Linked DNA regions of Homo sapiens: all the other regions are reported to be linked to region 4. The links are microRNA targets in miRTarBase. Many come from high-throughput screens and were not tested one by one. Region 4 holds a microRNA gene; each other region holds the end of a gene's coding sequence. Distances are between the middles of the regions.
Evidence for each region. Region 4 holds the annotated microRNA hsa-miR-6499-3p (AGCAGUGUUUGUUUUGCCCACA, at 2,446-2,467, shown strand). A microRNA usually pairs through its seed, bases 2 to 8, with sites in the 3' UTR of a target mRNA and lowers its output. Matches are read on the target gene's strand: a 7mer-m8 pairs with bases 2 to 8, a 7mer-A1 pairs with bases 2 to 7 and ends in A, and an 8mer does both.

Region 1 (4,065 bases), not on the chromosome of region 4:
GACAGGCCCTGCTTGGCCGTGGTCACTGGCCGCCAAGATCAGGGCTACAGATGTCTGCTCTCTGGACCCCACGTGATCTGGCCACTGGGGACCCCCACCCGACCCCACTCCCAATGATGAGGGGCATTTTCATTGCAAGTCAAAGGCAAGACAGGCTTCCATAAAGTCCCAGGAGGTCCCTCCTGTAGGGCACAAGGCCAGGCTGCCTCCCAGCCCCCAGGCCCTCTCCCACCTACAGAGACCCTCCCCTGCCCCCTCCACTCCGGGGCCTGTGCCGCCAGAACCGGGCTCTGCCCCCATACGCTGCCCTCGCAGCCTGGCGGCCTCCGCTGTGGCTGCCTAGCTGTCAAGAGCAAAGGCTTTTTTTTTCTTCAACCCCATTTTCTTCCATTTCTCCCACCTTTTTAATGCCAGTAACCTCACTGAGAATGTTTTACAGTGATGGAAAATAAACTCTGTTCCAAGTTCAACTCTGAATTACTGTGTCTGTCAAGGCAAGGGGAGTGAGGTAGGAAGTCAGACCTGCGTCCAAAGCTGGCTCTGCCACCTGGGCAAGGTTTTCACGCTCCCAGTGCCCAGTTCCTCCACCCACAGAAGGAGAATCATGGCCGGGCGCGGTGGCTCACGCCTGTAATCCCAGCACTTTGGGAGGCCGAGGTGGGTGGATCACAAGGTCGGGAGTTCAAGACCAGCCTGACCAACATGGAGAAACCCCATCTCTACTAAAAATACAAAAATTAGCCAGGCGTAGTGGTGCGCACCTGTAATCCCAGCTACTCAGGAGGCTGAGGCAGGAGAATCACTTGAACCTGGGAGGTGGAGGTTGTGGTGAGCCAAGATCGTGCCTTGCACTCCAGCCTGGGTAATGAAGTGAGACTGTGTCTCAAAACAAAACAAAAAAAGGAGACTAATGGGAGTCCCCCCTCACTGGACTGCATGAGATAACATCACAGCACACGCAGGCACCTGGGACTCACAGCTCCTACAAAACTCTCCCATCACGTGAGTGCTGAGGATGACGCCCATGAGATGGGGCCAAGCAGCAGGCAGCGACCATGAGATGGGGCCAAGCAGCAGCCAGTGGGAGGCCACAGCCTCGGCAGGGGGAGGGAAGTGGGCAGACCCCAACCACACTCCCCCAGAGGCCGCCACCTCCAGCACAGGCCTGGATATGAGAGAGGGGCCTGGGGGCTCAGGCTGCGCTGGGGAGATGGGTGTCAGCAACGCTGGGTGCTTTGCTAGCTCCTGGAGTGTGGCCTGGCCACATCTAGCTGGGTACCTCATGCCCCATGAGAGATCCCAGAGCTAGTCTAGAAGGTAAAAGCCGTCCCTCAACCAGGCAGCCCCATTCTGCAGACACAGGACAGAGCACACAGGGGCCAGAAGCAATGACTTAAAAAAAAAATTGTTTATTTTATCTGAGACAGGATCTCACTCTGTCTTCCAGGATGAGTGCAGTGGCACAATCACAGCTCACTGCAGCCTCAACTTCCTGGGCTCAAGTGATCCTCCAGCCTCAGCCTCTCAAGTAGCTGGGACTACAGGCACACCCCATCATGCCTGGCTAATTTTTTTTTTTTTTGTGTGGAGTCTCGTTCTATCACCAGGCTGGAGTACAACGGTGCGACCTCGGCTCACTGCAACCTCCGCCTCCCTGGTTCAAGTGATTCTCTTGCCTCAGCTTCCCGAGTAGCTGGGACTACAGGCACGTGCCACGCCACCATGCCTAGCTAATTTTTGTGTTTTTAGTAGAGATGGGGTTTCACCATGTTGGCCAGGATGGTCTCGATCTCCTGACCTTGTGATCCACCTGCCTCGGCCTCCCAAAGTGCTGGGATTACAAGCGTGAGCCACTGCACCTGGCTTTTTTTTTTTTTTTTTTTTTTTGGTAGGGAAGAGGTCTTTCTATATTGCCCAGGCTGCTCTTGAACTCCTGGGCTCAAGCAATCCACCCGCGTTGGCCTCCCAAAGTGCTAGGATTATAGGTGGGAGCCACTGTGCTCGGCCTCTGACACTAAATAATGTCAGTTAAGGGAATGAGAAAAAGGGCAGGTCACGCACCTGGAACCTGGGCTGTGCCAAAAGGTCAAATGTGCACGTATATACAGTGACTAGGTGACAAATGCAATGGAGCATCCCAGGCTGGGATGAAGGCCAAGGCCACCTACCTATGAGGAACAACCACTGCCTGGCTGGAACGTTCCAGAACCCAGTGGTTTCCATAGCTGCCCTACGACTTCCGAGATGACTAAACCCACCAAGGACTCTATCACACTGCTTGTCTTGGCCACTCACCCACCGTGGATGTGCACAGACCAGTGGCTCCCACGCAGCACAGGCCAGACAAAAGCTGGAAGGTGAAGGCTTCTTACCTTAGAAAGACAAAGTGGGGCAACCGTGGAAGGCCACATTCCAGACACTAAGGGGCCAGGAGCAAACGCAGCCCTGGGCCCCGGCCCTGGGGAGATGTCAGGCCCGTCACATCCCAGGCAACATGTCAGGAAGATGGAACTCAGGGGTGCTTTCCCGCCCCAGGTGTCTTCCGCCCTGCAGAGCAGCTATGGATCTGCAAAGGGGACTGGAATGCTGCAGAGCCCCGGGCTCCATTTGGAAACTCTGGCAGGATGAAGAAGCTGGAGACCACGTCCTGGGAAGGCTGGGGTACAGCAGGGCTCCCTGCAGCAGACGAGGGGTCCCTCAAATTCATGTGCACCCAGACCTCAGAATGTGACCTTATTTGGAAACACGGGTTTTGATGATATAATTAGTTAAGATGAGGTCACAGTGTATTGGGGGACCCTAAACCCAGTGAGTGGTGGCCCTACCAAAAAAGAGACTGGGCATGGCGGCACACACCTGTAACCCCAGCTACTCAGGAGGATGAGGCAGGAGGAACACTTGAGCCCAGGGATTCGAGGCTGCAGTGAGCTATGATCATGGCACTGTATTCCCGCCTGGGGGACACAGCAAGGCCCCGTCTCAAAAAAAAAAGGGGGGGGGAGCAGGTGGGGGGTACACACAGAGACAGCGCACAGGGTCACAGACACACAGGAGAGGGGTTGGGACGTGGGGATGAGGCTGTATGCCAGCAGCCACTGGATGCTGGAGGCAGCTGATGGACCCTCCCAGGCCCTTCAGGAGCCAGCCCCACGAACACCTTGAGTGTCGGCTTCTGGCCTCCTGAGTGTGTCTCTGTGGCTGAAGCCCCTGCTCTGTGTCACCTGTTCTGGCTGCCACTGGACACTCAGAGCCTGTCCTTGCCCTTGTTCTGCACCCAGTGCCCAGCTTCCTCTGCGGCCTGGGCATCCCAAATGTCCCCTGCTGGCCTCATACTGGGCCATGGGAGGAAACGGGCAGCTGGCAATGCTTTCGGACCAGGCTGTCTAGCAGTTTCCTGAATTCTGTGCCCAGGGATGAGAGTCCTGGAAAGGGAGTTTCAGGCCTGGTGATCAGGCTTTGGCACCGGGGCCTCCAGGAGCCACCGGCTGGAGCGTCGGCAAGGAGCCTGCCCCCATGTGGGTCCGCTGGTGCTTGTGCAGGTCGGTGCCCCGGCGGAAGCCCCGGCCACAGGCCGGGCAGGTGTAGGGCTTCTCACCTGTGTGCGTCCGGCGGTGGGCGCTGAAGTGCGAGCTGTTGTTGAAGCGCTTCCCGCACTGGGTGCAGGCATAGGGCCGCTCCCCGCTGTGTGTCCTGCGGTGGATGACCAGGCTGGAGCTCTGGCTGAAGCGCTTCCCACACTCGGGGCACGGGTAGGGCTTCTCGCCTGTGTGCACCCTCTGGTGCGTGCTGAAGTTGGAGCGGTCGCTAAAGCCCTTCCCACAGACTAGGCACTTGTAAGGCCGCTCGCCCGTGTGTGTGCGCTGGTGCTTGGTCAAGTGGGACGTCTTGCTGAAGCCTTTGCCACATTCGGGGCAGGTGTACGGCTTGTCAGCCCCATGGGAAGCCCGTCTTCCTGGTGGGGGGCCGCCTCTTGGCTGATCAGGCCTGACCAAGCCCCTGACTGGGGCTGGCCTCTGACCTGGGAGCGGGTGGCCAGGCCCCTGGCATCGTGCCGAGAGCACTCGG
Region 2 (4,056 bases), not on the chromosome of region 4:
CCTGGCCGTCCCTCCCCGATTTTAGAAGAGGAGGCACATCAGCAGGTTCTCCTTAGGGAACAAGGTCTCCAGGCTTTCAGGCATAAAGAAGGAAGGCCAGCACTACACAGGAGGGATTCTCCCCCAAACCTTAATCTATAGGACTCAGTGAGCGAGTCTTTGCCCTTCCCCCTCCCTCAAGACTGACACTCCTCCTCCTCCTCCTCCCCTGCCACCTTCTCTGGCCTCTCCAAGACAGGATCTAGGGCTGTGGCCAACAGACCTGCAATTAGGAGGGCCTGCTCTCATCTCCACAGTCCCGCACACACCCACTATTGCATGCCAGGCAGGTAACACTATTGAGAACAGCCGGCCCTGCCAAACAAGCCAGAGGGAATTTCAGAGAGAAGAATTTGGTCGCTGGAAAGCTCTAGCCCATAAAAACTCTCCTGCTGAAAGAGAGTATGGGAGCAGGGAGAGAAGTTACCACCTGATTCTCAGGGAGCAACAGCTTGGGGTCCTGGTGCCCTCCCTCCATGCATGGGGTGGTGGAGGCACAGGGGTCTTCCCGTCTAGCTCATGCTCCTGTACACTCTTGTCCAGTGCCACTGCTCAGTGAGGAATCCACCAAAGCTACAAGCAGCAGCTTCCCCTTGCTGAGGAGACCGGGGGTCTCCCCTTGGTGATATGAGGGGGGCTAGTTCTCCCGCTAACCTCTGGCATCCAATCCTACCTCCCTGATCTGAATCTCTTCCCTCTTTGCAGTGCCAACCCCCATCACCCTCATTTTCTCTCACCCGGATCACTTCTGCAGCTTCCTGGCTGAGCTTCCTGCCTCCAAGTAGCCCTCCAATCCCTTCTATACTCTTCTGCCTGAGGGACTGCTCCAGAACAGGGTGGGTAAAATAAAGTCCCTGGTCAAATCTAGCCTGCTGCCTGTTTTTGCACAACTCATGAGCTAAGAATGGTTTTTATGTTTATAAATCGTTGGGGAAAAAAGTCAAAAGAATATTTTGTGACATAAAAATCATATGAAATTATTTCGGTGTGCACAAATAAAGCATTAGAACAGAGCCTTACTCTTTTCATTTGCATATTGTCTACGGCTGCTTTCACACTACGATGGCAGAGTTGGATAGCTGCAACAGAAACTATAAGTCTCACAGTCTACAATATTTACTATCTGATCTTTTTTCACAAAACATTTGCTGAATCCTGGTCTAGATCCTAAATCTGGCCATGCCACTCTGCTTAGAATTCTTGTCACTCCCTGTGGCTCTCCACGAGCTGACCCCTGTCCACCTGTCCAGCCTCATCACCTGTGCCCCTAGTTGTCTGCCTGCTCTGGACAACCCTTACTCAACCATTCCCCCAGCCCTGTCTCCTGCTGTTTACCTTCTCTCAGCATGGGCCTCTTTCCTCCTCCAAATGGCAGCCTACCATCTCAAGCCTCAGCTCAAATGCTTCCTCCCATTTCACTTTCCCACACGTGTCCTGCTCTGACCCCCAGAGCTAACCCATTTCTACCGCAACTTCACAAAATATTCCTCTTAGGACTCTTCAGCTTTTAATAACCGATTAACAACCTGTTGGTGGCAGACTAGCCAATTCCACTGAGAACATCTGTTCACGTGTGTCCTCCCTGGATTACTAAATGTACGAAACCAGGCTGCTTCCCACAGCCCTGGCACAAGGCTGGCACAGGGTAGGCATGCAAATATTCACCAGAAGAGGCCTGGTTAGCATTCCACACCTTCTACTTGGCTAGTATTATGGAGGAAGATGTGTACATATTTTCTAGATACTAAGTATCATTTTTATGAACTTTGAGGATCAGGTACCTCCACGTGTATTACTCCTTTAATCTTCATAACCCTAATGAGGTCAGTGAAACTTTCATCGCATCAAGCGGCAAATTATGTGGCACAGCTAGAATCTGAAGTCAGGTCTCCTGCCTTTTGCTGATTCTGAGATACTCTCACACGTACTATTCACCCACTGAACCCACTGCTTGAAAGAGGTAACAGATGCTCATGGGCTTCCTGTTGTGTGTGGGGCCACTGACCTGCACTACATGGGTCCAGAGAGAGGTGGTTTTGTTTTGTGTCACTTCCCTCCAGTCACCTGTTCCTGCTGCTGTACCTGATCCCTTTTGAAGCAGACTGGGTAAGGACCAAAGGACAGCCCTGCTACAGGAGGAGGAGGATTGAGGAAAAAAAATGAAAAGAAATAAAAAAATGAAAACACCAAAAGGCAGCCCTATAAAGTTAAATTTTATAATTTAATTAAGTGCTTGTTTTTGTCACTCTACTTCTCAAGTCTCCTGCTACTGCTCTGGGGCTCATGGCTTGCTCTAGGGCAGAAGGAAGTTGCTGGAAGCCTGGCCTCCAGGCTGGAGGGGTGCCAATGCAAGGGTCACACTAATGGAACTATCAATGCACCTGCCTTAAAGGAGCCTGAAGAATGCCTCCAGTGGGCTGCTGGGCATAAGCCCTGGACTGTCCATATACTACTTGGAATATTCAAACAGAGTCCAGAGCTCAGAGGCAGGGAGAGCCAATAGGCTGCTGAAGGCCTAGGGAAAGCAACACAGGACAGTTGTCCATTTGAGACTCTTTCTCTATCAAAGAGGAGTTAGGGATATACTGGTCAGTTCAGAGACCACAGTGTGACCCTGGCAGAAGAACTTGCTCTCTATATTTCCTACCATCATGGGGGACGGCCAAACTGATTGTTACTGAACAGGTTCAGTGATGTGGTATGAGAAGTGCCAGGGACTTAAGGAAATAGAATTCTGTAAAGCAGCCTGACCCCCTTCTAGGTCTAGAACTGATCACATTGAAAATGCCAAAATAAGTTCAGCTAGATATACCTATGAGAGGTTTTGGCAAAAGACTTAGGTATGATGGCTGGGTTTAAGATAACATGTGTGATTCCGGATATGGTATACCAATTCATTATTTGGTATTTCAGACTAAAAAATTCATTTGTGCTCCTAAAGATTTTGATCAGTTTGGGTAAAGCAAGCAATGTCTGTCTGATGTTTCAGGCATTTTCAGGAGGACAAATAACTGGGACAACTGAGGCTATGACTTAGTGGCATAAAGTTGGTTTCAGGCTAAAAGTTTGGTTTGTCCAAATAAAGCCCAATAGTCCCTCAACTCTCAGAGCAATCACAGTGATGGTGTAAAGAGCCTCTTTGAATGCGTGATTGCATACCTAGTGACCATACAATCAGAGATCTGGTCATAATGAAACACTTTATACAGACAGGAATAGACAAGGGATTTCTGACACACTCATGCTTTGGATGTGTCAGTACAAGACAGTATGTGAGACTGTGATTCTGCCAGGCAGAGGGGAACGGGCATGATTTATCTGCTGGCAAATAAGTCTCCACTATACCTAATCATTCTTTTATCTAAGTGCATCATGATCTTCTTAGTCCTGGACGTCAAAATAGTCAATTATTGGCTCCTTGGTTATTTTCTGTAAATTACTGCTCCCAGGATTCCTGAAAAACAAACAAAGAATGATCAGTCTTTTCTTCTTTGGGGGAAACAGATACAGGACTTCAGAAAGTTAAGGATCAGCTGATTTACCATTTGTGAATCTTAAACATTTATTTTATTTTTATTTTAGTCTTACTTTTTTTCCTTCTGCCCTTTGTGAGCAATTTTTTTAACTTTTGTGTTTCCTTCTAGATTTACATATTACATGGGGAATTTTATTCTGTGAGATAACAAATTCTCTATTTACACTTTACAGTTTAGAGGTAACCTTTCACAATCTATTTACAGGATTTCATATATGATGATGATTTTACTCTGCCTTCACAGTTCAATGAATGCTCAGTTAACAGCTTAAGCCAAGCGAGCATCTCACTTGTGAAGTTTTGATAGTGGGACAAACATGAGCTGGTGATTTTGAAATTTGGTAATGGGCACATGGGCATTTATGATAGTAATACTATTCTCTCTACTCTAAAACATTTCCATAATAGAGTTTTATACAAAAATAAAGCAAGCCAAGGGTTTTTAAAAAGATAGCATGGGATGGCCAGGTGTGGTGGCTCAC
Region 3 (4,065 bases), not on the chromosome of region 4:
TTAGGTAGAGGTAAAGGGTTAAGACCCGGGGACATGGAGCTTCCCCACATGATAAGGAGTCTCCCCTGGGCTTTACAGCCAACCCCCACCCTCCAGGGCCTCCAGTAGTCAATGTCTCTATCTTGGTTAGACAAAGTCAAAGGACTGACTCAGTCAAAGGACTGTCTCCTCTAGAGGAAATTCAGGGCTGGCCAGGAGGTACGCCTGGGCCTCTAGGAACCTAACCAGCGTCACCATGAGAGGGGAAGTTAGAAAGGTGTCTGCCACATGCTCAGGTATGCCTGCAGGGAATGAGCTCAAGGTGAATGATTAAATGTCTTTTTTGCTTTTACTCCGAAAGGAAGATCACATGCCACCACCAACCACCACCACCACCACCTCCACACACACACAAAGTTCATTTCCTCCTTAAGGGACAAGAGGCCTAGGTTTACTCCAGTCCTAAGAAGGGCTGCTTTTCCCCTTCCTAAACCACCAGCCCCTGCCCTGGAACAGGTAATAGTCCCTATTTTTCTACCTCACCCCCTGACCCCCAGTAGATATCTGATGACCAGGGAAATGAGTTGAGAGTAGAGGTAGGTCTTCGAGTCTCAGGGACATCCCTGGCCTGCCCAATGTCTGCTGCAGACCTTCGGAAGAGGCCTGGTGGAATCATGGTGACTCAGCTGAACTCCCAAAACTTCCTGGGTGTAAAGGAACCAAAGGCAAGTGAGCTGCAAATAGCAATCTCTGCCTCTCCCCAAATAAATCCTCCCAAGGCTCACACTCAAGATTTGTGAAAGTTCCAACTCCTCCGGCGGGTGAAATGCCACCTCTTAAGTGGTCATCTAGCCTTGGTGGGGGTGCATCTAGCCAAGGAGACCCCACCTTTCCCAAGATGACGACATACCTAATTTTGCATAGCACCTGAGATTGTAACTAAGGTGGTGGGAACCCTTGGTGACTTGCTGTGTTGTGTTGGCCAGTGTTAACACTCACTTCCCCTTAACAGCCCTCCAAACCCAAAAGGCTATGTCAAATCCAGTCCCAGTTCCCAGTTCCTTGTGACTGAGCCCCTCACCCCGCTGGACATTCCTCTCCAAGCAGGCAGTGCTTCCTTATACCCTCCCCACACGGGTAGGTGTTGAGAGGCCAGTACTGAGGTAAATTTCTTTCTTATGGGCAAAATGAGCCCAAGGCACCCCAATAAAAGAACTCACTCAAATCCAAGCCTGCAAGTGTGCCAAGTGCTAGGTCCTCTTTTATCATTTTGGCACCCCAAACACCATCCAAAGGAATGAAGAGCACAGGCTGGACGGGGCGGACTGGAAGGCCCTGAGCCTTGGCTCCCCAGAAGAACCGCAGAGGCCACACAAGTGTCGGCAAGGCTGGGCCCGCTGCTATTCAGCCAACAACTAACACACTGCACAGTCTTTTCAGAAGTAATACAGCAGGAAGTACAGGCTCCTTTGCAGAAAACCTCCACCCCGTCCCCTCTAAGCGCAGCAAACTGCCAGCATCAAGGAAGGGAGCTATAGGCTTAGCTTATAGGGATGAGAGATGCCGCCACCCACAGCCACAGCCCTCTCTCTCCGCCTCCCCCTACCCAGGACTTGCAAGGTATACAAGGGGAGAACCTTACTGGCAAAGTCAAACCAAAACCAAGTAAAACCAGCTCCACCATCAATGTTTCTTGAAAAAACGGGGTTTATTGATTTTTAAACTGCAAATAGTCGTTACAAAAAGTTTTTTTTTCTTTTAAATAAATTCACACAAAGAAAGAGAAATAGAAAGCGACGGTAGTGACCAGCAAGAGGAATAATAATTACATTCATCTTAATGTGTGTGTGCCAGTTCTGTTTACATTAACATTGGAAAACTCCAGACCTGGAATCCAGAACCTCAAATCTGTGAGTGGAATGTCTTGAGATGGGCACGTGGAAGTCAAAGGGTTTCTCTTTTTTTTTTTTTCCCCTTTTAGAAGCTATACATAAAAAGTTGTTTTCCTTCTGTACTGTCACAGAACTTTTACATACATTCTCAGTCCTAGTTGTGAAAGGCCTAAAGAGAAAGAAACTCAATTTGCAGTCCAACACAAAGGGGGGAATTTCTAAAATAAATAATCCAACAGTTTTTTGCATTTTTTTAAATTAATTTTTCATTTTTTTAAAATAAAATAACCAAAAAAGTGTAAAGTTACAAAAAATGTCGTTGAAGAATAATATATTAAAACTGTGGAAAAAAAGGAAAAAGACACGTCACAAAATTTTAAGATTAATATGAAGATCATAATTTAACATAAAAGAATATATTCTATGGATTTGTCATCCCGATAAATATGAACAAAATTAACAAAAAAAAGCATAGTTTGGCAATAAATACGTTTTGATAAGTTAAATAAGCTTTTTTATATTGATGTGCAGTGACAAGCAAAATTTTTGCTCTCCAATTTCTGAAAGTTATATGAAGTTTAAAACCCAGGGAAGAAAGCATGGCGTGAGTGCTCTAAGGATAGACCTACGGTATTCTAGAGCAAAAACCATTAAAGCTACTTCTACAGGAAATCGTTTTACACAGATATTGTATGTGGAATGAATACCATTAACTGCTCACCCCTTACTTTTTTTTTTTTAGCTTTTCTCTCATTTTTTTTTTGTTGTTATTTTTTTTAAAAAGATGTCACATATGAACTGGGGAACTTTAGCACCAAAATCAAGTCTCTCCTAGTCCATCTAGCTTCCCCTTCCTCCCCACTTAAAAAAAAGAAAAAATTAAATCACAAAGTCCCACTTAAGTCAAAATCTTCGTCCGCTTTTTCAGCCTTCCTTCCTGCAGACCTACACAAACCCAGGCAAGATTAGTCAACAGGGGTTCAGATCGGGAAGAAAAAGGTTTTGAATGTCAAGACAGGTTTCCCCCAAAACCCTGGTCTGGCAACAACTCTTCCAAGGGGCAGGGGTGGGGGGGGTGGGGGGGCGGGTACAGGTGGAGAGGTGCCACCGGGAAGAGGGGAGGAGGAATAAGTGTGCGGGAGACTGAAATGAGGGAAGGTGCAGTTGTGTCGCCAGTGGAGGGGGCTGCTGGTTCCGGGTCTCCACCCCGCCATGGGCAGAGGCTCCGGGAGGCCCACGGGTGCCCTCTGGCGCTGAAGAGGTAATGTAGTCACAGTGACAAAGTTAGATTACAAGGCACTAAGTTGCTTCTGTAAACTGTTACTGCTTTTTCTCTTGTGATTTGGCACTTAAGGCTTAAGCCGGAAAAAAAAAGGCATCTACTGACAAAATATGGGACTTGTCTGTTATGCATGGTAAGTGGGCTATAAAATCCAGGGAGGGGGTTTCAAGCCAGAAGAAGCTACTGACAAATTGACTTGTCCTTATGTTAGGTGGGGTTATGAGGGGGAGAGGGAGGGCACATTCTGAGGTGCTGGGGGAAAGGGGTTGAGCTTAACCTTGTTAATGTAGGGCCTGTGGGGAATGGGATGGGTAGGGAGAAGAGGGTATGGGATGTGGGTGCAGGGTAGGGGCTGGAGTAGGCAGGAGGTCCCTCCCTACCCTGGCTTAGTCATCTGAGATGGAAAGTCTGCTGAAGATGGGCAGGCGTCTTGAGTTGTCCAAGGTCGGGGAGTCTGAGCCACTGTGGCTGCTGCTGGAGCTGCTCAGGTAGCCCTCCTGGTCCGAGAGAGAATCCTGAGGGCTGGGGGGAGAGTCAAACATGTGAGGGGACTCGGACATGGGCCGGAAGAGGAAGGTGGTCGGGGAGCCACCCCCGGGCAGCCCCATGCTAGGGGCAAAGAGGCTTGCCAGCTCCTGGCTGGAGAAGGCAAAAGGGTTATTGGTGCCATCGGGCAGGGTAGGTGAGCCCAGGAGGTCATCGGCGCTCAGAATAGGGGGTGGGGTGATGGACGTGGGGCTGTCCAGCAGCCCGGTGGCAGCGGCGGTGGCAGCGGCACTGGGAAACCCAGCAAAGCTAAAGCTATGCTGGAGGCGGGGACGGTCAGCGGAGAGGTCCCGGGCCCCGGCCAGGGCACGGCGCTCTTCAGCGTTGTGGATGAAGTGGCAGCGGGGCCCGTAGGGGCAAAAGCCG
Region 4 (4,065 bases):
AATGTATTTCCCACAGTTCTGGAGGCTGGAAGTCCCAGATCGGGGTGCCAGCATGGCCAGGTTCTGGTGAGTGCCCTCTTCTGAATGGCAGACTGTCGGCTTCTCATTGTATCACATGGCCCTTCTCATAAGGGCCCTAATCCCATTCACAAGGGCTCCACCTCCAAATACTGTTACACTGGGGATTAGATTTTAACATATGAATTTTGAGGGGACACAAACATAGAGTCCAAAACAGGCACTAAAAATAATACTTGGTAGTAGCTGATTTACAACAGGTAAAAATCAAGACTGTCCTTGACAAACCAGGGCATCCAATCTTCTAAGTATAAGCCTTGGTAACACTTTTAGATTCTAATCTAAGTACAATGAGAGGTGGTTGGAGGGTTTCAGACGGAAAAGGGATCCTCTTTGTGTCTCAGGAAGCTCATTTTTCAAGCTCTATAGAGTGGGTGAGGGAGACCAGTGAGAAGTCATCCAAGCTGGAGATAGTGGGGCTGAGACCACGGAGTGATGGAGAAGATGCAGGAAGCGGAGAGATTTCGGACATATTTTGTATGTAAATTGATAGGAGTTGGTGGAGTGGATGTGCAGTTAGAAAGAACAGAGACGATTCAGGGGTGATTTCTAAATTGTTGGCTCCCATGAAGACTTCGGTGGTAGTGCATTTATGAGACTGGAAAGGCCCAGACGGGAAGGCAGGACAGGTTTATGGGCTAAACCGAAGCTCTGTTTTGCACATTATTTCCCAGTTGTTTGTGAGACATCCAAGCAGAGGTGTCCAGTGGGTAGCTGGGAATTGGAGTTGGCAGCTCAGAGGATTGGTAGATGGCCCTCAAAGCCAAGAGCATGGATGTGATTGCCTAGGGAGAGATGAGAGAGAATGGCTTCCTGACCTCTGTATTCTCAGACCCAGGCACACGTCCTGCCTAGACAGGAGCTTAGTAATGACTGGCATCATCACCATCAATTGCATTGGTCCCGTACTTCCACTTCCATGCACTGGGAGGCACCATAGGCCAGCAAAGAAAAACACAGGCTATAGACACAGATAGGTATTCAGATTCTGCTCAGGCCTTATCTGCTGCTGTATGACCTTGGGCAAGTTACTTCACCTCTTTGAGCCTCAGTTATATTTTTTGTAGGATGGGTGACTTGATAGTACCTATCTCATAAGAAGGATAAACTAGGATAATGTATTTACAGCATTATCATAGTTTATCTATGATAATGACTAGCATTGTACTCAGTTAATGTTAGCTATGTATTATATATAATCGGTAGTAGTAGTATTGTTGTAACTAATGTTAGCTATACATTATAATTAACAGTAGTGTTAATTATTATTGTTGCTATTAATATCTCTTCGGTGTTATGCATGACTTCCAGCAGTAGGTGTAATCTTATCAACTTTCTTGTACATTAAAAGTGTTGGAGTGCAGGTGAACAAGATATTACTACAGGGAAAATTGTGGAGACCCTCGTTGACAGCTGAGGAAGTGATAACATCACTGAGGAGAAGAAGGCAAGCCTGTCCTTTCTAAGTCAGGCAGGAAGTTGCAGGGATGTGTGGTGAAACATGAAAGGAAAATGCGTTTATGATTTACATTCTTTTCCCTACTTAAGTGAGGTCCTGTCACCCTCACGGCTTTTCACAGTTCTGACATTAACTGCAACCCTGCGCGTGCCAGCCCATCAGTGAGGTCAGGCCTGCTTCCCTGCCCACTTGCTCCAGCACCAGTGACCCCGTCTGTGCTGTTGAACACACCGCCTTCATTCCTACCCCAGGACCTTACACTTGCTGCTCCCTCTGTCTGTCGCCTCTTCTTCTCATCCCTCAGGACTCAAATGTCACTCCACAGAGACTCCTTCTCTTCTACCTGATCAAAGTTAGGTCTCTGTTTATTTCCTTCCCAGCATTTTATCCAAGTTATTTGGTAACTTATTTATTGTCTCTTTTCTCCTGGCCACAGCAGAAGACTTCGTTGACTGACTAGAAGGACAAATCCCGACTCCCACTCCAATCGCATAGCAAAAGGGAATCCCAAGGGGAATTTTCGTAGGCTGAGCAGGGTGCATGGTGCATCAGAATTGCTGAGACATCTGAGGGCGCCCTTGAGGACAGGGACAGAATGAGAAACTTCATGAGGAAGTTAGCCCAAGTCTATGGCTGGAGAGATTTAGGAAGAGGCTCAGAGAGATGTCACATGAGGAAACTGCATTGTTTTACTGCATGGTATAGGATGTAACTCCCTCCTTCAATCTCTACAAAACCTTCAGAAAATCTTTCTTTTCTGTCAGTGCTTTTGGAGTTAGGTTTTTTTTTTCTAAATGCAACAATGCGCTGAGCCAGCCCTCAAGTTGGGCGTGGGGCAGAGAAACGTAGCTCCACAAGGAGGCCCAGCCTCAGTCGGGCGCAAGAGCACTGCAGTTCTGTTGGGTGACAGCAGTGTTTGTTTTGCCCACAGGCGTCAGACAGTGGCATCCCTCCCCTCTCGTCTTTGACGTCTGTCCGTGTCCATGTCACAGAGCAGAGCCACTATGCACCTTCTGCTCTCCCACTGGAGATCTTCATCACTGTTGGAGAGGATGAGTTCCAGGGTGGCATGGTGGGTAAGATCCATGCCACAGACCGAGACCCCCAGGACACGCTGACCTATAGCCTGGCAGAAGAGGAGACCCTGGGCAGGCACTTCTCAGTGGGTGCGCCTGATGGCAAGATTATCGCCGCCCAGGGCCTGCCTCGTGGCCACTACTCGTTCAACGTCACGGTCAGCGATGGGACCTTCACCACGACTGCTGGGGTCCATGTGTACGTGTGGCATGTGGGGCAGGAGGCTCTGCAGCAGGCCATGTGGATGGGCTTCTACCAGCTCACCCCCGAGGAGCTGGTGAGTGACCACTGGCGGAACCTGCAGAGGTTCCTCAGCCATAAGCTGGACATCAAACGGGCTAACATTCACTTGGCCAGCCTCCAGCCTGCAGAGGCCGTGGCTGGTGTGGATGTGCTCCTGGTCTTTGAGGGGCATTCTGGAACCTTCTACGAGTTTCAGGAGCTAGCATCCATCATCACTCACTCAGCCAAGGAGATGGAGCATTCAGTGGGGGTTCAGATGCGGTCAGCTATGCCCATGGTGCCCTGCCAGGGGCCAACCTGCCAGGGTCAAATCTGCCATAACACAGTGCATCTGGACCCCAAGGTTGGGCCCACGTACAGCACCGCCAGGCTCAGCATCCTAACCCCGCGGCACCACCTGCAGAGGAGCTGCTCCTGCAATGGTAAGTACTACATCTTCCCTAGGGACGAGCAGCACTGCTGGGCTCAGCCCGCCTGACTCTAAGCATGGAGATTCCACTGAGGCTCTGTGGGAGAGTTCAGGGAAGTTTTAATAAGCCCAAAGGCCACCAATCACCATAAGACGGCTAGTGGCCTCACAAAATCTAGTTATGGAATAATACCCAATTCTCAGCTCCCTTTCGAGATTTAGAAAATAACAGTAAGACTACAATATGTGGTTTAACATCATGGCTAAGAGCATAGGCTGTGGCTTCAGTCTTCATGGGTTAAAATCCCAGCTCTACCCCTTACTAACCAGGCGACTTTAGGAAAATTAACCTCTCTGTGCCTTTGAGCTGGGCTGCTGTAGGAATTACATCAGTACTATGTATCAAGTGCTTGCTTAGAACAGTGCCTGACATATAGAAAGTGGTCAATACATGTGAGTTACTAATACTGCTACTATTATTACCATAGTCTGGTGGTTATAAGCTCAAGGCTTAGACTCAGACAGCTCAGGTTCAAACCCTAGCTCCATCAGTCACTAGCTGTGTAACTTTGGGTGTATTGTTAAAACCCTCTGAGCTTTTTAGTTTCCCATCTATAAAATAGTCAAAATAAATACATCTGCCTCCTGGAGTTGGGTTCGGGGGGGAAATTACGTAAGAGTTATAAAAGCACTTAACCCATGGCTGGCCCACAATAAGCCCCAGATCAACGGTGACTGTCATTCCCGTGGTAGCAGTTGCTATAGGGAGCCTGCTGTACGCCACACTCTGTGTAGATGT
Region 5 (4,058 bases), 28 Mb from region 4:
GATTTCAGCGACACAAACAGAAGGATGAGATGTTCTCCACTGCAGGGCTGTCTGTAGGTGTGGGAGGTTAGGAGTTGGTTTTGTCCTATTATGTGTACCCTGAGCAATAGCGAGTAAGCTCTGCTAATGCAGTTCTGAAAATGTTTTTCTTTAGGCAAACTCCAGAGCCAGGAATATTAATTGTAGGAGTTTCTAAAACTTAACATGCAGACCAGGAATTAAGGCAGGTGTGACACAGAGAGGGGGCAGCACTGGGTGTGTCCCTACTACTCACACTCAAGTGCCGCCTCAGGGAGTGCTGGTCTGAGAGGGGGGGGGGTCATAGCCAAGATCCCTGTAGGAGCCAGGCAGAAGCCACCGTTGAAGTGGATGGTGTGGCAGGCAGCAGTGGGGGGGTGGGGGGTGGGGACAGCTGACAGAAACTCCTCATTGTCACATGGCAGCCGTGTGTAAACCAAGGTCCGTGTGCACAACCTGCTGTGGGCCGCCGCTGTGTGTCTTCTCTGCCTTAGGGCAGGGGATGGCGAGCTATGGCCTATGGGCCAAGAGTAGTTCTTATTTTTGTTTATTTATTTATTTATTTTTATTGATCATTCTTGGGTGTTTCTCGCAGAGGGGGATTTGGCAGGGTCATAGGACAATAGTGGAGGGAAGGTCAGCAGATAAACAAGTGAACAAAGGTCTCTGGTTTTCCTAGGCAGAGGACCCTGCGGCCTTCCGCAGCGTTTGTGTCCCTGGGTACTTGAGATTAGGGAGTGGTGATGACTCTTAAGGAGCATGCTGCCTTCAAGCATCTGTTTAACAAAGCACATCTTGCACCGCCCTTAATCCATTTAACCCTGAGTGGACACAGCACATGTTTCAGAGAGCACGGGGTTGGGGGTAAGGTCACAGATCAACAGGATAAGAATTTTTCTTAGTACAGAACAAAATGAAAAGTCTCCCATGTCTACTTCTTTCCACACAGACACGGCAACCATCCGATTTCTCAATCTTTTCCCCACCTTTCCCCGCTTTCTATTCCACAAAGCCGCCATTGTCATCATGGCCCGTTCTCAATGAGCTGTTGGGTACACCTCCCAGACGGGGTGGTGGCCGGGCAGAGGGGCTCCTCACTTCCCAGTAGGGGCGGCCGGGCAGAGGCGCCCCTCACATCCCGGACGGGGTGGCTGCCGGGCGGAGGGTCTCCTCACTTCTCAGACGGGGCGGCCGGGCAGAGACGCTCCTCACCTCCCGGATGGGGTCGCGGCCAGGCAGAGGCGCTCCTCACATCCCAGACAGGGCGGCGGGGCAGAGGCGCTCCCCACATCTCAGACGATGGGTGGCCGGGCAGAGACGCTCCTCACTTTCCAGACTGGGCAGCCAGGCAGAGGGGCTCCTCACATTCCAGACGATGGGCGGCCAGGCAGAGACGCTCCTCACTTCCCAGACGGGGTGGCGGCCGGGCAGAGGCTGCAATCTCGGCACTTTGGGAGGCTAAGGCAGGCAGCTGGGAGGTGGAGGTTGTAGCGAGCCGAGATCACGCCACTGCACTCCAGCCTGGGCACCATTGAGCACTGAGTGAACCAGACTCCGTCTGCAATCCCGGCACCTCGGGAGGCCGAGGCTGGCGGATCACTCGTGGTTAGGAGCTGGAGACCAGCCCGGCCAACACAGCGAAACCCCGTCTCCACCAAAAAAACACGAAAACCAGTCAGTCGTGGCGGCGCGCACCTGCAATCGCAGGCACTCGGCAGGCTGAGGCAAGAGAATCAGGCAGGGAGGTTGCAGTGAGCCGAGATGGCAGCAGTACAGTCCAGCTTTGGCTCGGCATCAGAGGGAGACCGTGGAGAAAGAGGGAGAGGGAAAGCTATATCATTCTTATGTCTTTGCATCATCATAGCTTAGCATCTACTCATAAGTGAGAACATATGATATTTGGTATCCATTCCTGAATTACTTTACTTAGGATAATGGCCTCCAGCTCCGTCCAAGTTGCTGCAAAAGGTATTATTTCGTTCCTTTTTGTGGCTGAGTAGTATTCCATGGTGTATATATACCACATTTTCTTTATCCACTCATTGCTTGATGGGCAGTTAGGTTGGTTCCACATCTTTGCAATTGTGAGTTGTGCTGCTCCAGATATCATCTTTAACTCCTTTGCCTTCTCCACATACATTTCCAAGTCCTGTTCATTCTACCTCCAAAATGTATCTTGTATCCATTCATCTCTCTCCATCTTCAATCTATTTCAATGCCCCATCATCTCTTGCATGGAGGAGTGTAATAATTGGCTAACTGGCCTGTTCTTACATTTTAAAATCAAAAGATGTGACAGGTGAAATGCCTATTTCAGTGTCCATTGATGGTTCTGCTTACACACCACCTGGCTGCCTGGTGTCGCAGTGGCAGAGTTGAGCAGTGTGAAAAAGACTGCTTGGCCCTTTACAGGGAAAGCAGGTCCACTGTGGCCTGTGAGGACGAGAGCTCTGGGCAGGCTCGGACACTGGCAGACCCTGGTCCTGGCTGGCCAAGGCAGCAGGGTATGTGTTTCGGGTCACTCACAGGGCTCAGCACCACTCCTCATGGCTTCCTTACTGTTTCGGCAGAGGCTGACCCGCGGCTGATTGAGTCCCTCTCCCAGATGCTGTCCATGGGCTTCTCTGATGAAGGCGGCTGGCTCACCAGGCTCCTGCAGACCAAGAACTATGACATCGGAGCGGCTCTGGACACCATCCAGTATTCAAAGCATCCCCCGCCGTTGTGACCACTTTTGCCCACCTCTTCTGCGTGCCCCTCTTCTGTCTCATAGTTGTGTTAAGCTTGCGTAGAATTGCAGGTCTCTGTACGGGCCAGTTTCTCTGCCTTCTTCCAGGATCAGGGGTTAGGGTGCAAGAAGCCATTTAGGGCAGCAAAACAAGTGACATGAAGGGAGGGTCCCTGTGTGTGTGTGTGCTGATGTTTCCTGGGTGCCCTGGCTCCTTGCAGCAGGGCTGGGCCTGCGAGACCCAAGGCTCACTGCAGCGCGCTCCTGACCCCTCCCTGCAGGGGCTACGTTAGCAGCCCAGCACATAGCTTGCCTAATGGCTTTCACTTTCTCTTTTGTTTTAAATGACTCATAGGTCCCTGACATTTAGTTGATTATTTTCTGCTACAGACCTGGTACACTCTGATTTTAGATAAAGTAAGCCTAGGTGTTGTCAGCAGGCAGGCTGGGGAGGCCAGTGTTGTGGGCTTCCTGCTGGGACTGAGAAGGCTCACGAAGGGCATCCGCAATGTTGGTTTCACTGAGAGCTGCCTCCTGGTCTCTTCACCACTGTAGTTCTCTCATTTCCAAACCATCAGCTGCTTTTAAAATAAGATCTCTTTGTAGCCATCCTGTTAAATTTGTAAACAATCTAATTAAATGGCATCAGCACTTTAACCAATGACGTTTGCATAGAGAGAAATGATTGACAGTAAGTTTATTGTTAATGGTTCTTACAGAGTATCTTTAAAAGTGCCTTAGGGGAACCCTGTCCCTCCTAACAAGTGTATCTCGATTAATAACCTGCCAGTCCCAGATCACACATCATCATCGAAGTCTTCCCCAGTTATAAAGAGGTCACATAGTCGTGTGGGTCGAGGATTCTGTGCCTCCAGGACCAGGGGCCCACCCTCTGCCCAGGGAGTCCTTGCGTCCCATGAGGTCTTCCCGCAAGGCCTCTCAGACCCAGATGTGACGGGGTGTGTGGCCCGAGGAAGCTGGACAGCGGCAGTGGGCCTGCTGAGGCCTTCTCTTGAGGCCTGTGCTCTGGGGGTCCCTTGCTTAGCCTGTGCTGGACCAGCTGGCCTGGGGTCCCTCTGAAGAGACCTTGGCTGCTCACTGTCCACATGTGAACTTTTTCTAGGTGGCAGGACAAATTGCGCCCATTTAGAGGATGTGGCTGTAACCTGCTGGATGGGACTCCATAGCTCCTTCCCAGGACCCCTCAGCTCCCCGGCACTGCAGTCTGCAGAGTTCTCCTGGAGGCAGGGGCTGCTGCCTTGTTTCACCTTCCATGTCAGGCCAGCCTGTCCCTGAAAGAGAAGATGGCCAT
Region 6 (4,065 bases), not on the chromosome of region 4:
CATTTATATTTTGGGGTGACACATGATGGTTGCCTCACAACCCTGACCCTCAATAGCGGAGGGATTAGTTCAGCAGGTGGCTAAGACCGTGTCTGTGATGACTTCGCCTTCCTCTTCTCTCACTCTGGGGGTGGGTGAGCCCGCAAGTTCCTCATGGAAAACCAGACTTCAATGGACAGAAATTGAGGGGCAAGTCACAATGCCCTTCTTGACACTGAAGGCGGCCTTGGGTCCAGTCTGCTTTACAAGTTATTTCTAAAACCCAAGTGTGAGGAAGTCTGAGAGCCACAGGTAGATCTTTAGATTGTAAAGTGCAAGGACAAAGGTTAAAAGGTTAGAGCTGAGATGAATTTGGTGATTCCCATCCATATATATATATATATATATATATATATATTTTTTTTTTTTTTTTTTAAATGGAGTCTCTGTCACCCAGGCTGGAGTGCAGTGACACGATCTCGGCTCACCGCAGCCTCTGCCTCCCAGGCTCAAGCGATTCTCCTGCCTCCTGAGTAGCTGGGATTACAGGCGTACGCCACCACGCCTGGCTAATTTTGTATTTTTAGTAGAGTCGGGGTTTTTGCCATCTTGGCCAGGCTGGCCTCGAACTCCTGATCTCAGGTGATCCGCCTGCCTCAGCCTTCCAGAGTTCTGGGATTACAGGCGTGAGCCACTGTGGCCGGCCCCATCCATATTTCTTAAACATGTTAAAGCCCGTTCAAAATTTTTCCATTTCAAATGGTATCAAAGTCCTTGCAAATCTCAATTGAGATACCTCATCAATGATTCAATGAGTACCGGGGGTTAGAGGTATATGAAAAGATGAGAAGCTCACACTGGGCTTCTTCAGTTACAAAACCCCGTTGGGATCACACCCACTCTTCTTCGTGCCCTCTTTATGGTGACATTGGTTTGGGGTGCAGATCTTTAGGTGCTAAAGGGCAACTAGACTTGCCGATGGAGGGGTTTGGGGAAAATTAAGGGCAACCTGCACTGAGTTTTCAAGGCTATATAACTTCAGTAGCAGTTGTATGCCCATATGAAACCATGACCACTAGGAGAGGGGCATGGAATGACAAGTCCTAGTGTGATGGGAGTGGGACATTTGGTTAAGTGTTGGTTCAATGATCTAGACTCAATGAGACACTCTGAAAGCTACAAACTGCATCCACTCTGCCCTACAGCACGAAGGCCACGTTTATTACTGAACTCCTAGCCAGCCTCCAGTGCCCAAGAACGGTCAAGAAGATTCCTTGCTGTTCACAGAGACCAGACAGATGATATCGGTCCCGGAAATGCTTCTTCTCAGAAGCAGTGTCACAGAGGGCTTCCTTCCATCCGTTTTTCTGGAGGGGAAGTGATGGAGAATGCTGAGATGAAGAGGAGAGTGACACACCCAGTGGCTGAGAGTGGCAGGCGCTGCACCTGATGAGAAAGTCCACGTGGGTGGGATCTGGGCCACCTGCTTGGAGAGAGCAGCTGGCCAGTGCCCGTGCCAGACCACTTGTTTAGGCATGGCCTCGCCTGCTGTCTTGGTTCCACCGTGGCCCCGTGAAGGCTGTTATCACACCGCAGTTCTTTACGTTATGGTGGATAAAGCGAGATGCTAACACTCCTGCCTTTCAGTGCTGGGAGCTTTCTACATGGTTTACGGGCACTGCAATGAACAGAATTGAGGTAACTGACCACAAACGACCACCACTTACTATCTAACCCCTGCACCCCTCTCTGGCCAGCCTGGCTATCAGGAAGCATCTCAGTAAGAGGTTTATGAGCAGAGTCCATTTAACCTTCGATAAGAAACGCTCCACAGTTTCCTCTCACAGGGAGAGGGATTGTTTCACAGCAGGGAGTAGGGGGAGCTGGAAATCTGACCATGTCAGTTAATGGGACAGTCAAGGGCTGGTGGTGGGAAGTTCCTGGACTGATGGGGCTGTGCTGACTCTACAGACTTTAAATTCTCTGAGTAAGTGGGGAAGGAGAGGAGAAAATGCAAAACAAAAACATCGAGTCCAGCAACTCTTATCAGGAGATGTGAGTGTCTGCTGGGTTCTGGTGGTAGAGGTGGTCAAAGAACTAGATTTGGGTTAAGTTCCTGCCTAATTATTTATGACTGCTGTTGTCTACGCTACGTCCTTAACAATGCCAATACCTTCATTGATTTGCAGTCTTGGGGTCAGCTTTCTGATTTGCAACATGAAGCTGGCTGAATTCCACGAGGTACATGCAGATGTCAGGAAATGGCCACCCACAAGTAGATACTCAGAGCCCCTCTAAGGGCAATAACAAACAGCAAAAATCCAGAATCATCAAATGGAATCCTACAGGCAAGCGGGTGACTGAGACCCCCAAACTCATGAATTCCATTAGGGAACTTTTCTAGAAAACACACCTTAAGATCGGGGAGGGGAAGGACATGCTATTTACTGCTTCAACTCCAGCAGGTATGTCTCACAGAATCCACTACATCTCTCCCTCACTGAGAAGTGGCCTTTTCAAGGATGGATGACTTGCACACAGTAGGCATTTCATAAATATTCTCTGAATGAAATAACCGAGGAAGGAATGTGTGTAGGAGGAAAAACCTTCATTTATGCTAGAAGAAGGTTCCAGGCAATGCACGAGGCTGAGGTTCAGAGAAGACGAGTCAAGGGCAAAGCTAGCAGGGTGAGTGAGGGATCACAACTTCAGCAGCCACTGGGCTGCAGGAGCTCAGGACACGGGTGCTGGCAAGGCAGGCAGCCTCTTGGAGGTGTTCAGGGGAAACCAGCCCAAGAGCAACGGGCATCTGTTACTGGGGCAAAGCTGCAGGCGGGGACAACAGGGTCTCATATGTCAACTTTGTATGTTCTCTTTTTAATTTTTTGTAGAGACAGGGTCACGCTATGTTGCCCTGGCTGGTGCTCTTTCAACCTCACATGTTCTTCAATTAGAGATATTTGATCTAACACCTCAGTATGATAACGTCAACAGTCTCAAACAGGAGAGACTGGTGGAGAACACCTCACACCATCTTCTTGTTAACTGGCCGAGGAACAGAGTGAGGAAGGCTGCGACAGACAGGCAGGGCTGGATGAAGACTCAGACCTTGGGAGAACGAGTGCTCCCAAGCCATCGTGAGGCCTGCTCACAGCTCCCCGGTACAAAGCATCTCATGTGGAAAGTAAGCAGAAGAGACAGTAAAAAGAAGAGTCGATTTTCTCTTCCCTTCCCCCCTTCTCTTTTTCTAATCTTTTTGAGATTGTTTTTTGCCCTTTTAGGAGAAAGCACCTATTGTGATATTAGAACACTCAGCTCTCTGGTCCATTGGAGGCATCCTCTCAGCCTGTTGAACTCCAAGTCCATTCCTGGTTTCATTCTCATGTCAGAGGACAGGAGGTGAGAGGCTCCTCTGCTCCATGGCTCTCTGTCAGGGCAGAGCCACCAGCTCCCACAGTTCTCCACTGCTGATGACCAGGTGGCAGTTCTTCAGAGAGATTCGACCCTTTATCTACCCTGGACATCAAGAAGGTTAGTGTAGAGACCACATCCAAAGCAGAAAGGCAGAGTAAGATGGCAGATGTAGAAACGGTGCTGGAATCACACTTCTTCAAGTGAGCAAGTTGGGATGAAGTTTGTAGTGTTTGGTGCCAAGAAGGTTCCGGGCACCTGTTCCTCGTAGTTCTCTTTTCTTGGCTCCTGGGTTGACTACCTCAGGCTTCCCCATAAAGCAGGGTCAAGAGGACTCTTCCAGGGCGTTGACCACTTGCTCTAGGATGTCGGGACAATGGTCTGCTATCTGCTGAAGAATGGCGTTGGCAAACTCCTGCAGTTCTGCATTGTCCCGTTCACCTTTCTCTAACTCATCCTGAAGCTGAAAGGGAAAGGAGAGATGGATTTCAGATACAACAATCCCATTTGCACTGAGCTAAGAATTATTTTTCATCAATAAATGACAAAGGCACTCTGTATGTGAAGTCTCTCTGCATCAAAATTAACCATAAGAAAAGTGTAAAAGCAAATATCAAATGCGTCTTCATGAAAGTGAGGCCCAAAAAGTTAGTCACTGGTTCTAGGCCGAAAGCT
Region 7 (4,057 bases), not on the chromosome of region 4:
CCTGCTTCTCAAACCTCACCCTGTCCCACTCTCCCTAATTGTTTGCAACCCAACTTGCCTCTGCAGTTTCTTGAACGGAACATTCCAAGTTTATTTACCTTGAGGTCTTTACAGTTATTTTTCTCCCAGTATAGAATTTTCCTCAGATCTTCTGTAACTGGCTCTTTCTCACCTTTCAGGTTTTGGGTTTAATGTCATCTCTGAGGCCTTCCATAATTAAGCTATTCAAAACAGATCCCCTCCCCCACCCTAATATGTCACAGTTTCATTTCTTTTATGGCACTTATCAGTAATTTACTTATCACCATTTAAATATAAACTCCTCTACAACAGGAAACCTCTTGCTCATTTTTATTCCAGAACCTAGAAGAACTAGTACACTGAAGGCATTTGATGTTTGTTATGAAAAGGAAACAACAAAAAAATCAAGTTCAGGCTGGGCATGGTGCCTCATACCCGTAATCCCAAGCACTTTGGGAGGCTGAGGCAGGAGGGATGCTTGAGCCCAGGAGTTTGAGATCAGCCTAGGCCACATATTCAGACCCCATTGCTACCAAAAAATTTTTAAATTAAAAAATGGCTAGGCATGGTGGCATACAACTGTAATTCAAGCTACTTGAGAGGCTGAGGTGGGAGGATCACTTGAACCCAGGAGGTTGAGGCCACAGCGAGCTGTGATCACAACACTACACTCCACCCTGGGCGACGAAGCAAGACTTCGTCTCAAAAAACAAATTATGTTCAAATCCTATCTCACCATAAAAACCTAGCTACAATCCCCAGAGAAAACCAAATTTCAAATACTAATATATGCCAGGTGCAGTGACTCATGCCTGTAATCCTAGCACTTTGGGAGGCTGAGGTGCACAGATCACCTGAGGTCAGGAGTTCAAGACCAGCCAGGCCAACATGGCGAAACCCCATCGCTACTAAAAATAGAAAAATTAGCCAGATGTGGTGGCAGGTGCCTGTAATCCCAGCTACTCAGGAGGCTGAGGCATGAGAATCACTTGAACATGGGAGGTGGAGGTTGCAGTGAGCCGAGATTGTGCCGCTGCACTCCATCCAGCCTGGGGGATAGAGCGAGACTCTGTCTCCAAAACAACAACAACAAAAAACAAATACTGAAATAGATCTGGGTTGTGTACTGGGTATCTGTTATATTCTTAACAGCCCATCTTTTGAAAAATATTTCACTATTTGGGAAAATCCCACATCATGAGTTCTGTCTTCCTATTGTAGATATCAAAACACAAATTCCCAGCCTCTCTTGCAGCTAAGATGTAGGCATGTAATTAGACTCTGCCTACCAGGCACCCTCATAAGGCTTGACTCAGAAAAGAATAATGTAGTGACTCTGTTTCTCGACACATGGACTGTGGCTGAAGTGTTGGGCTTTCTGGGAGAGTTGGGGGGGCACGTCAAGTGAAACTGGTGAGACTGTAGTGGCGTTTCCTCCGGTACTTGATAGGGCAGCACAACATAGACACTGTTCTCCTAAGGCCAGTTTTGTGCATGATTTCGGGCATCATTCCTAGAAGTACAGCCTTGAATCTGTCCCCAAAATTCTCAAAAGCACCTCCTATCACTTTAGTAAACCTTTTAACACTTAGCTAGTCAGCTTCTCTTGCCTGTCCCCTGTGACAACCAGGTTTATAGGAACTACAACTGTCTATAACTTTAGGACTTCAGTCTTTAGAATATGAAATTGTTCCTGTGTGTCGCTATTTGTTTCCTGCTATGTATCAGAATCAGTTGTCCCTGGAAGAAGGAGATGAAAAACACAGGCCAGCCATCTTTGTTCTCCACTCCAGGTCACAGTCATTTACCTCCATAACTCGTTGGCAGGAACAGTCATAAGAGACCTGCTTCATCTTTATAACAGAAGGGTATACCATACTTTAAGTATACCTGTTCAAAGAATTAGTTACAATGTTTCACAGTTAAAAAGTGATGACTAATTTTGAATTTGTTAAATACCACCCTCTTATAATAAAACAAGATTCTATATCACAAATTGCAAACTGGTAAGTAAATCTGGTCTACAAAGGGTTTTTGCTGGCTTATGATACATTTAAGCTTTAAAAAAAATGGTTAACAGAAATACAAAGATTTTATAGTTGTATCTGTGATTTCTGCCATTCTTAAAAAAACAACAGCAGCAATTGATGATTATAAGCCTGCATGCAGCAAGCAGGAGGTCACAGGCCCCCTTCTGACAAGCCATTAGTTCATCTGGCCACTGATAGGCACTCACAAATCAAATTTTTACTTATAATGTTGTTGTATATATTGGAAGTTGGTGAGACTACCTACTATTTTATGAAAATGTTAAGTAAACAAACATAAAAACATTTTACATTAGTATAAAATGCTGGAATAAAAAAACATTAAATCAAAAGAGAAAAGGCAAATTAAAGGGGGAGAGGCAAAGGGTTGGGACTTTGACTTGAAAATTCCAAAGCAAGTCAAACCATAGTATGCAATTTAAACGATGTGATATGTGTGCAACATAAGGTGGACCCTGAAGTTAACTTTAAGAAAACAGTAGCAATTTATAAGAGACACTGACAGACTACAAAGGTGGTTTCCTTTATTTTGGTAAACTTTAAAGATCTCGGGAGGGTGTGGTGGCTCACGCCTGTAATCCCAGCACTCTGGGAAGTCGAGGCAGGCGGATCACGAGGTCAGGAGTTCGAGACCAGCCTGACAAACATGGTGAAACCCCCTCTGTACTAAAAATACAAAAATTAGCCAGGCGTGGTGGCGTGCGCCTGTAATCCCAGCTACTCAGGAGGCTGAGGCAGGAGAATCGCTTGAACCTGGGAGGCGGAGGTTGCAGTGAGCTGAGATCGCACCACTACACTCCAGCCTGGGCAACAGAGAGAGATTCCATCTCAAAAAAAAAAAAAAAATCTCATTTTGATACTAATTCAAAAGGCCAAATAGAATGACCCTCTTTCTGAATAATTAAAACAATTTACATTTTAAACATGTATTTCTGTAGGATGTATTCTATCATCTGAAATATTAATAAGATCCAAGAATTTCTTAACTGAACAGTAAACAGATCCGAAGTATATAATCTGTGAAAATGATTTAGAAAGCATTTTGACTGGGGGAGGTGGAAAATAAGGACATGTAAATGATCTGCAGTTTAAAATGCAAAATCCTGTCACGTTACATCTCACATGTCCAAGACATCCTCCGTGTGCTGAAAAAAAAAATGATGGTTCTCAGAAACGGTATAATCCATTAATAAGTCATTCATCCAATACATAACAATTTTTAAAACTCCTTATAAAAAGGAGTCCACGTATTCACAGATACTGTAGAATCCCCAGCTCCTATGTATATTACCGAAAAATGCAAACAAGTGTATCTTTGAGGTATTATGGCAATCCACATCTTTCTCATCAGACTATACCAGTCACCTCAGTACTGTGGAAATGTTCCATCGATTTTGGCAGCCCAGGCCATGAGGCCCCCCACAACATCCCGAACTGTTAAAGGGTCTAACTCTTGAGCTGCTGATAAGGACTGGAGGATCTTCACGGCTTTCTGTGAGTCATTTCCCAGTTTGCAAATCACATAAATGGGGACAGCAGCCCCTTCTTGTGTGCCCTGCTTCTCTTCCCAGATTGCTTCTTTTAAGAGTTTCAGGCTCTCCGCATCCCTGCGTTCCAAATGTTTCAGAGGGATGTGTAGGGCATGAGGCAAACGACAAATGTCCACCTCCACCTGAGGCCTGACGTCCAGCAACAGGTGGAATGCCCCAGAATCCAGCAGTCGCTTATAGTCGGTGACAGAAACACGCTCCTCTGGGCTCAGTAGTTGCAGGGAGCGGCATTTATCAGTGGCTGAGGAGCCACAGAAGGCTTCATAGTCCAGCAGATCAGTCACAGTGGGCCGTTCCCCGCAAGCTGCACAGTCGAGCCTGCGGCTCCGCAGCCGAATAGAGCGGAAATGCCCTCTCAGGGCATCAAAGAGCAACAAGCTGCCACTGTAAGAGGGGCCCAGACCCGCAGCGATTTTCAGCACTTCCAAGGCCTGCAGG

Region 1: miRTarBase lists ZNF500 as a target of hsa-miR-6499-3p. Seed matches in the 3' UTR shown: 7mer-A1 at 2,920-2,926 and 7mer-A1 at 1,454-1,460.
Region 2: miRTarBase lists NFX1 as a target of hsa-miR-6499-3p. The part of its 3' UTR that is shown has no 7-base or 8-base seed match.
Region 3: the mRNA of ZFP36L1 is a reported target of hsa-miR-6499-3p. Seed matches in the 3' UTR shown: 7mer-A1 at 2,398-2,404.
Region 5: the mRNA of MRNIP is a reported target of hsa-miR-6499-3p. The part of its 3' UTR that is shown has no 7-base or 8-base seed match.
Region 6: miRTarBase lists ERC1 as a target of hsa-miR-6499-3p. Seed matches in the 3' UTR shown: 7mer-m8 at 1,312-1,318 and 7mer-A1 at 444-450.
Region 7: the mRNA of MOCS3 is a reported target of hsa-miR-6499-3p. Seed matches in the 3' UTR shown: 7mer-A1 at 2,838-2,844, 7mer-A1 at 1,032-1,038 and 7mer-A1 at 819-825.

Annotation. Positions count from the first base shown.
Region 1 is chr16:4,748,927-4,752,991 of GRCh38, forward strand. ZNF500 (zinc finger protein 500) reads right to left here. Exons shown (of 6, transcript NM_021646.4): 6 at 1-4,065. The coding sequence ends at 3,450. DNAAF8 (dynein axonemal assembly factor 8) reads left to right here. Exons shown (of 10, transcript NM_139170.3): 10 at 1-470. Among named protein-coding and RNA genes, the nearest start is that of ZNF500, 16 kb to the right of the region's middle.
Region 2 is chr9:33,369,343-33,373,398 of GRCh38, reverse strand. It overlaps NFX1 (nuclear transcription factor, X-box binding 1), which reads right to left. Exons shown (of 24, transcript NM_002504.6): 24 at 2,242-3,493. The coding sequence ends at 3,421. Among named protein-coding and RNA genes, the nearest start is that of AQP7, 31 kb to the left of the region's middle. RefSeq lists an enhancer at 279-779.
Region 3 is chr14:68,785,994-68,790,058 of GRCh38, forward strand. It overlaps ZFP36L1 (ZFP36 ring finger protein like 1), which reads right to left. Exons shown (of 2, transcript NM_004926.4): 2 at 1,669-4,065. The coding sequence ends at 3,540. Among named protein-coding and RNA genes, the nearest start is that of ZFP36L1, 5.0 kb to the right of the region's middle. RefSeq lists silencers at 123-192, 213-262 and enhancers at 539-833, 1,123-1,302, 3,735-3,794, 3,805-3,884, 3,992-4,065.
Region 4 is chr5:151,520,490-151,524,554 of GRCh38, reverse strand. MIR6499 (microRNA 6499) reads left to right here and starts at 2,407; the gene lies at 2,407-2,468. It overlaps FAT2 (FAT atypical cadherin 2), which reads left to right. Exons shown (of 24, transcript NM_001447.3): 19 at 2,469-3,279. It also overlaps a transcript of SLC36A1 not described here. RefSeq lists an enhancer at 2,402-2,571.
Region 5 is chr5:179,833,848-179,837,905 of GRCh38, forward strand. It overlaps MRNIP (MRN complex interacting protein), which reads right to left. Exons shown (of 7, transcript NM_016175.4): 7 at 3,429-4,038. The coding sequence ends at 3,544. SQSTM1 (sequestosome 1) reads left to right here. Exons shown (of 8, transcript NM_003900.5): 8 at 2,589-4,058. The coding sequence ends at 2,746. Among named protein-coding and RNA genes, the nearest start is that of SQSTM1, 15 kb to the left of the region's middle. RefSeq lists enhancers at 2,922-3,216, 2,998-3,147.
Region 6 is chr12:1,489,881-1,493,945 of GRCh38, reverse strand. It overlaps ERC1 (ELKS/RAB6-interacting/CAST family member 1), which reads right to left. Exons shown (of 19, transcript NM_178040.4): 19 at 1-3,853. The coding sequence ends at 3,716. Among named protein-coding and RNA genes, the nearest start is that of LINC00942, 8.6 kb to the left of the region's middle. RefSeq lists an enhancer at 3,987-4,065.
Region 7 is chr20:50,959,604-50,963,660 of GRCh38, reverse strand. It overlaps MOCS3 (molybdenum cofactor synthesis 3), which reads right to left. Exons shown (of 1, transcript NM_014484.5): 1 at 1-4,057. The coding sequence ends at 3,436. Among named protein-coding and RNA genes, the nearest start is that of MOCS3, 2.8 kb to the right of the region's middle.